Regions from separate parts of the Homo sapiens genome. Here regions 1 and 2 are each linked to region 3. The links come from fine-mapping of genetic effects on gene expression. A gene starts in region 3. Each other region holds a variant in brackets. All regions are shown on one strand. Distances are from middle to middle. Region 1 has its middle 100 kb from the start of TMEM215. Region 2 overlaps LOC105376017 (a long non-coding RNA gene). Region 3 holds the start of TMEM215 (transmembrane protein 215).

Region 1 (2,758 bases), 100 kb after region 3:
CCTCCCAGCCTCAATAAAACACTGGGAGGGGATGCTTCCAGGTCACACACCTCCTGTGACAGCCTCTTTGTTATGTTGCCCTGGAGAGCCACCTGCTCCAGTCCCATGGAGTGCCATAGAATTGTCTTATCCCTCTTTCACATACAGACCTTCTACTTCTTGAAAACAGTAATCCTGTACCCTTTAAATCTTTTATTCCTGAGCTAAACATCAGAGTCAAATTCCCTGAGAGCTATTTTATCTGTGAGGCACACGAAACTCAGTGGCTAGGGTCCATTGCTTTTCAGGGGCCTATGGAAAAAAAAAAAAAAGGTTCCAAGATACAGATAACAAAATTGAAATTAATAGCCATTTAATTAACTACCTGAAAAATGTAACATTATGTCAATGTCATTGTTAAATTTATTATTCATTTATAAATTTATTACAGGTGAGAACACTTGTAGATTAGATTCTCTTGTTTTGCAAGAATTCCTGAGTAGGCACACTGATTGATTTATGCCTACTCGGGAGAGTAGACACAGACAATTGTAAATTGAATAATCATGTATAGGCAAATAACTTCAAAGGCAAAAATATAAAAATCCCTTCAACATTTTTATGGAAAATTTTACATTTAATTCAAGATGTGGGTGCATTTTAATTCGTTTGATCTAAGTGATGATGCCTCCAAAAGAGTCTACATAAAGCTTAAAATGGTCCTGAGTCTTCCATGGCCTAAATTTCTCCATGTAGGCCAACATAACTTTTAGTAAAATTGCTCCTTGTGGCTTCACAGTTTATGTAATTTCTTCTAGTTGCTGAATTTGACCAGTAAATTGAACCCCATTTACATTTGTTTGGAAGAAAATGAAGTTTCTGGGAGCACTCTGGGTCCTGCCACAATTCCACCAACATGACCTATCATGTTGTCAGAAGCGTCCTCTCTCCACACCACACAAATCTAATCTCTTCCAGACATGATGAGAAACTGCTGTAACTCTGGCAAAAGAGCCACTGAAGTCAGCCACATTGCCAAGGGCACGGTTTTAATTGCCTCAAGGAGCCCTGGGGTGCACGGGCAGCACCCTAAATATATTGTAGGTTAAAACCATCTTGCATCCAGACACAGACTGTTAATTCTGTTAAACTTCTTCTATTCAAGTGATATGCCAGGTATCGAAAATGGGCAATTCTTTAAAGGTGCAACGGCTCTGTGAGTGCTCCTTTCACAGGGCCTAACGTGAGACCATCTGGCACAAAGGCTTCATCTGTGATGCCCTCAGAAGTCACCAAGAGGAAAAGCTGGGAGGATCTGCTTGTGAATTCCTAGGGCCGGTAATGATGACAAACCTGCTTTCTAGAGGGCTGGGCCTATGGGTCTTGGCTTCAATC[T/C]CAGGCCTGCGGGAAGTCGTGGGGAGCTGGATGATTGAGGCAATAGTACTGATGGTCTCTGCCAAAGCCACAGCCAATTCTAGAACTGGCTTCCCTGCTGGGAAGATGAAAGCCTGAGTTTTATCTGGGTTCTAGGAGGACCTCCAGAGTTCCTCTTCCTTAGGCAGGAAACAAAGCAAGCTCTTAAAGGGGGCAGGGTAGGGAACATGGGGCTCTGCATCAAGGTGTGTGTAGAAAAAGCTGCTACCCAAAGCTACTCTGTTCTCAGAGGCTCAGCATCCTGAATGAGGATGCATTTGCCTCACAAAAGCCCTGTCTCAGTCAAGCCCTTTGGAGTCTATCCAAGGTGACCACCTGCCCTATCTTCTAAGTCTACTTGTTCCATCTCTGTGCTTCAAACCTGAGTTTGCCTCTGTCCCAGCCCTTCAGATTGATGTTCAGATCAGCTTGGGTCTAGTCTCTGGCTTCTCTGATGCTGTCTGCAGGCTTCCCTGTACTCCCAAAGCCAGTCCTGACTCTAAAACCCAGCCAGGCCTGCAGAGCTTCACCATCTCTGGTTGTCCAGGCAAAAACTCTGAATGCTGTAATGCAGAGATCACTAGAGCTTCTATGTAGAGACTCAGCCAAGACCCTTGAAGAAGGGAGACAAGTTTGGCCATGAAACAATAAACCACCTTTAGAAACTCAACAGCACTTATTGGGTGCCTGTGGAATGGTGCTAGGCACTGTGGGTACAGCAAGCTCTGCCTTCACAGAGCTTAGAGTCACCTTCAGACCTGCTGAACAGACACTCCGCTTCCTTACCTTCTGCTGGTAGCATGGTGTTTAGGCTTCCAGGGCAGCTTACCTCTTTCCAGTTCTGATATGGGCAATAAGAGAAGTCACACCTGTGTGGACCAACACCACCGGGAATAGCAATAAAACAAGGGATCAGACAACCAAGGTACATTCCATCCCTTCCAGCTGATTCTTTCTAGTTTATGCATTGTTGCTCTGGGAACCCCAGGATCTATGGGTATCTTCAGCACAGATCCATGAAGTTGCAGCTGTAGAGCAAAAGGAAAAAATATATAATACACGATAAATACCCTAGGGCTGTTTGGTGTACTAAACATTGAACTTGATCTTTCCACTGGAATAAGGAGAAGTAATTTACCTCATTAGAGAGTACATGGCAGCAAGAAAAATATAGCTCATGAACCATATTTATTTTCCATTAATCTTAAAACAACATCCCTCATCCAGATTAAAATACTCAAAACCAAGGGCGTATGATTGATTAAAGAGAAACAACCCTGAATCATGGGGTTGATTCCTGGAGGGGTAAAACAAGGAGACAGATTATTTGCTCTCTTATTACAGATTCCAAGATAAAACTCCTCCC
Region 2 (2,758 bases), 60 kb before region 3:
GAGTTACACCTTAGAGTTGTCCCAACCAGAGGTAAGAGAGCTGGGCTTTCATATAGTCACACTAGCATGGGCCAACGATGAGGAGGGGAGGGGAATAAATTCCTAAGCACTTCCCGCTCCCTTTTATAGAGGAAAGGGGGCTCCAATAGCCTGAGGGCAGCCCTCTGAAGACGAGTTGCAGATGCTGATTGTGAGAAGCCACACGGGCAGGGGCAGAGCACAAGACAGTAAAAGTAGAGCTGAGATCTGATACAGCACTGACACTGTCACTATGAAACCCTCTAATAGAGTGTACATTTGCTCATCAATGCTTCCGTATGAGTCAGTCCTTCACGGTAATCAAAGAGAAACTGACATATGCATCCAGGTCACATCTGCACGGAGTAAAAGCAGAGCCTGTGCTTCCACGTGCAGAGAATGGAGAACATCTGTCATCTGGGTCCATGTACTTTTGGAACAAACCTCACTCACAAGTACATTGAAATATACTATGTATACTAGCAAGGCTATACTGCTGATGCTGCACTGAAATGGAATTTCTGTTATCAAAACTCGATTTCTATATGGGAGGCACATGTATTCACATCTGTGTTCATTTCTGCTAATAAAACGCCCATGCTCCTCACTGCATCTAACACAGTCGAGCATTCCAGGTCCCCACAATCCAACTCCATTTCTTGAATCAGCTTTTTCTCGGCCAGACTCCTGCCATGTGCTGCTCCTCATCCACACGCTGTGTCCTGCACGGTAGCCACCAACTAAACAACATGCACCACACTCAGAGCTAATATGGGTTATGGGTGTCTCTTAATCCTAACAATAACTCCATGTCTTAGATGCTATTTTACTTAACAGTTGAGAAAACTGCAGTCTGATGAGGTAAAGTCCAAGTTCTCTAAGTAAGAAGTGGAGCTGGCATTTGGAGTTAATGCTTTCAGCTGCTGCACTGCTCTGCCTCCGTGGACACGGTCCCCTCCTTCCAAAACCCCTTCCCCATGTCAGAATGTCAATACCCTACCATCATCCAAGGCCTTGTTCAAATGCCATATTCTCCACAAAGCCTTTAAATCAGGCAGAGTTCTTAGAGGAAAGGGACAGAAATCTAACGTATGTAAAAGAAAATGTATTAGTTTCAGTGGTTGGAAAGAATACTGGGGTGGCCTACATGTTCCGAGGGATGGCTGCGGGAACCCTAGGGATTAATGCAACTAGAATTTTCTCTCTAACTCTTTCATTTTACATTATCTCCCCCAGCCCAACAGGCTCAGAAGTATAAGACACCCTCCCCCTTCTCTGTCATTGTTCATTTATCATCCCAGGAAAGACTCTGATGAGCCCTGTTTGGGTCATGTGCTTATCCCTGCCCTAACCACAGAGCCCAAGGGAATAGAGTATTATCATTAGCCAGGCCAAGGAGGCTGGATTGTTACACGAGAAAGCAGGTGGGAGGAAAACATTCCAGGCAGTTCACAGCACTTGCTCCCACAGTTCATTACATTGTCCATGAACACCCAGATAGAATCACTCTGTTCCAGTTTCTCTGCCATAAAGCAACTATTTATTGTGCTCATAGATTCTGTGGATCAGGAATGC[G/A]GGTGGGACACAGTGGGGATGGCTTGTCCCTGCTCCACAGTGTCTGGGGCCTGAGACAAAAGACTCTAGGCTGAGGCTGGATTCATCTGAAGACTCACTCTCCGTGCCTGGCAGTCGATGCTGGCTATCGGCTTGTAGCCTCCGTTCCTTTCCACATGCGCCTCTCCATGTGGTCTCGCTGTACAAGATGGTTGGGCTTTCTCACAGCAAGGTGGCTACGTTCTGAGGCTGAACATCTTAAGAGAGAGAGAATGCGTGCCGTGTGAGAACTGTATTGCCTCTTTTAATTTAGCCTTACCAGTTCTGCTGCATTTATTTGGCTGGAGCTTCCCAAGCCTGCCCAGGTTCAACGGCAGGGGAAATAGATTCCACTTCTTAATGAAGAATGGCAAAGTTCTACAGAAATTTTGCTGTAGACATTTTCAGAAAATACAGACTGCCACACATTTTTTCCTATGAATTCTTTCGTGTATGTTTTCCATATCTTCCCTAAATTACTATGAGTGCTGTGAGATAGTCATCTTTGTATTTCTATGCAGTGCCTTGTACAGGACCTTATACACAATCAAGCTTCAAAATATGTTGGTTGGCAAAATGCCTCTGACAGCAGCATCCCAATTTTTCTACCAACAATTTTTTTTCTTTTTTTTTTTTTGAGACAGTCTGTTGCCAGGCTGGAGTGCAGTGGCACAATCTCAGCTCACTGCAACCTCCACTTCCCAGGTTCAAGTGATAGGAGAATCACTTGATTCTCAGCCTCCCGAGTAGCTGGGACAACAGGCGCGCACCACCATGCCCACCAAATTTTTGTACTTTTAGTAGAGACTGGGTTTTGCCATGTTGGCCAGGATGGTCTCGATCTCTTGACCTCATGATCCGCCTGCCTCAGACTCCCAGAGTGCTGGGATTACAGGCGTGAGCCACTGTGCTGGCCTCTACCAACTATTAATAGCTGTGTGACTATGAGAAAAATTACATAACATTTCTGAGACTGTTTACAAACTGAGAGAGCTTAAGTTTGTGGTTTCTAAATATTCTGATTTAGCAGCAAACGACAAATCACTTTCTTCAAACCACACCTAATATAGAACCTCGGTATGCAAAACAGACTTTTTAAAAAGCAACAGCAAAGATGCTATGGTTGAAGCAGGTAGAAGAGGAGTAG
Region 3 (2,758 bases):
ATGTGTGTGTAATTTTTGTACACAGACTATGTACCAAGCATTGTGCTAGGAACTTTACGTTTATTTAATCCTCACAATGTTTCCTCATATATTTGGTATTAATCTCATTTTACAGATAGGACGACTGATTCTCAGAGAGGTTAAGTCACTTGCCCAGGAATATACAGCTAGTTTAACTGGGGAAGGCCTGGATGTGAAAATTCTTTCCAGTAAATCAGTGTCTTGACATGAAAGCATGTACCGCTCATCAACCTGTTCTCCACCGCCCTCCTCTATCCTAAATGGGCAGCCCTGTTGAAGAATCACAGCCAAAGCCAGTCTTGCCCCCCGGGGCCAGAGGAATCCATCTGCCCCTGCCTACCAGAGCGGGAGGAACGCAGGCTCTCAATGCCTGCTTCAGCAAGGGAGGAGAGAATCGCCCAGAGCTGAGCGGCGTCGTAGGGTGGTGGTCCTGACCGGTCAAGGCCCCTTCTCCTCGTGAACTGGGGGCCAGGGAGCCCTTCTCCCTGTCCCCCCGGCACCACAGCGCTGTAGAAGTGAAATCCCGGCTCCAAGGTCACCCTCTCCCGAGCCTGGAGCTGGAAAGCCACGGGGACTCCGGGGACTCCCCCAAGGCCCGGACTAGCCTGGCACCCACCCCTCACCACTAACCCACTCCGCCTGGGCGCTGGTTCTGTGCGCTCCCGCGGCGCAGTCGCTCCGCTGCAAGAGCGCTTTCGCGCGCCGCCACCGCCCAGAGCCGGGACCAAAGCAGTCCTCGGGCACCGGCTCCCCGAGGGACACACACCCCCCCGCGCCCCGAGTCGAGGGGTTGAGAGAAGGGCGGTCGGGGAGCCCCTGGGCCTGCCGTCAGTCACCCGGATTTGTAACTGGAGAAGGGTGCGGGTCCCGGAGGGACATCTCCAGCTGGCACCTAACTCCTCGGATCCCGGACTGGGAGCCCGAGCTCGGATATTGCAACGGCTGCCCCGTGGGCAAACCGACCCTGGTTTCCGACTCCGGCCACTGGCAGCCTCGCGCCCCAGACCCTTCCCGGGCACGGAAGCGGGTCAGGTCGCCCTGCTCAGCCTCCGGAACGGCGGCGGCACAAACCCCGGCCGCTCCCAGCAGCCCCGACGAGACCCCGGGCAGCGCCTGCCGCCGGGTGGCCTCCCTCTGGGGCTGACCCCCTCGCGCCCCCGCGCGTCTGTCTGCGTTTCTGAGCCTGCTCTGACAGTGATGTAACAAGGCCAGGCTCGCGCCGCGTCCCCTCTTTCCCAGACTCAGTGCTCCCTCCTCCTCCCGCGCCCCGCGCTCTGCGCGCTGAGCTGGCGCCGGGCTCCGCTTGCACAGCACCGGGACCGACGGGCACTGCTGGGAGAGCCGCTCTCCCAGGTTCCACCTCCCCGATGCAGAGTCCGTGGGGGAAACCAGGCTTTCCTCCCAGAACCAAGGGAGCGAGCCGAGGGGGCAGCTGCTGTGGGGGCTTCTGAGGAGACAGCCTGGCTTCTTTCCCTACTTCCTGGAGAGGGCAGGAAACCTCAGGTACCTCGTTGACCCCAGCCGGAGCGTGTTGATATGAGAGAGAGACGGAGGTTGCAATAGTGAGAGGAAGAGAGGGAGGGCACAAGAAAGGGAGGGAGGGAGAGGGGACGGAGAGAAAGAGTAGAAATAGAAACAGGGAGAGATTGCAAGAGAAACGCAGAGAGAGAGATAGAGAGATTGCAAGAGAGATACAGAGACAGAGATCAAGACTGAAAGTCAAGAAGCAAGTCGGAGACAAAGGGCAAGAGAAAGACAAGAGTTGATGGGTGGGAGCTTGACTTGGATTTTTTTTTAACGCACTGTGGTTTCATCTCTGACAGAATAGAGGAACGCTGCTCCCTGGTCAGCAAGCAGCCCCCAACCTGGATGGAGTGAAACATGCGGCCTGATGACATTAACCCGAGGACTGGGCTGGTGGTGGCCCTGGTCAGTGTCTTCCTCGTCTTTGGTTTCATGTTCACCGTCTCTGGGATGAAAGGGGAGACTTTGGGAAACATCCCCCTCCTGGCCATCGGGCCAGCCATCTGCCTACCAGGCATCGCAGCCATTGCCCTGGCCAGGAAAACCGAGGGATGCACCAAGTGGCCAGAGAACGAGCTGCTGTGGGTCCGCAAATTGCCCTGCTTCCGGAAACCCAAAGACAAGGAGGTGGTAGAGCTGCTGAGGACCCCTTCAGACCTAGAATCCGGCAAGGGGAGCTCAGATGAGCTGGCTAAGAAGGCGGGCCTCAGGGGGAAGCCTCCCCCACAAAGCCAGGGTGAGGTGTCCGTGGCCAGCTCCATCAACAGCCCCACACCCACGGAGGAAGGAGAATGCCAGAGCCTCGTCCAGAATGGGCATCAGGAGGAGACGTCCAGATACCTGGACGGCTACTGCCCCTCGGGCAGTTCCCTCACCTACAGTGCCTTGGACGTCAAGTGCTCAGCAAGGGACAGATCTGAGTGCCCTGAGCCTGAGGATAGCATCTTCTTTGTGCCCCAGGACAGTATCATCGTTTGCTCCTACAAGCAGAACAGCCCGTATGACAGATACTGTTGTTATATCAATCAGATACAAGGCAGGTGGGACCACGAGACCATCGTCTAATCTCTGCCTACAAAGGTGGCTGGATTGATAGAATATGACTAAGCCCAGCTCCCCGTGGAAGCAAATTGCTCTGCTTGGAGAGCCTTCACACTGTTAGAAATTGACCTGGTATGTGATGGGTGTGATAACCTCTGGTACCCGAGAGTCA

Evidence for each region. PIP is the estimated chance that this variant, and not a neighbour inherited with it, causes the effect.
Region 1: its variant is fine-mapped to the expression of TMEM215 in putamen (GTEx, PIP above 0.99). The same link has a PIP of 0.9 or more in anterior cingulate cortex, caudate, prefrontal cortex and substantia nigra.
Region 2: its variant is fine-mapped to the expression of TMEM215 in tibial nerve (GTEx, PIP above 0.99).

Annotation. Positions count from the first base shown.
Region 1 is chr9:32,884,827-32,887,584 of GRCh38, forward strand. No RefSeq gene overlaps it. Among named protein-coding and RNA genes, the nearest start is that of TMEM215, 100 kb to the left of the region's middle. The variant T/C (reference allele first, on the strand shown) is at 1,375.
Region 2 is chr9:32,722,593-32,725,350 of GRCh38, forward strand. All of the region lies in intron 4 of LOC105376017 (a long non-coding RNA gene), which reads right to left. Among named protein-coding and RNA genes, the nearest start is that of TMEM215, 60 kb to the right of the region's middle. The variant G/A (reference allele first, on the strand shown) is at 1,594.
Region 3 is chr9:32,782,282-32,785,039 of GRCh38, forward strand. It overlaps TMEM215 (transmembrane protein 215), which reads left to right and starts at 1,259. Exons shown (of 2, transcript NM_212558.3): 1 at 1,259-1,524; 2 at 1,845-2,758. The coding sequence starts at 1,903. The coding sequence ends at 2,610. LOC105376017 (a long non-coding RNA gene) reads right to left here and starts at 625. Exons shown (of 7, transcript XR_929559.2): 1 at 362-625.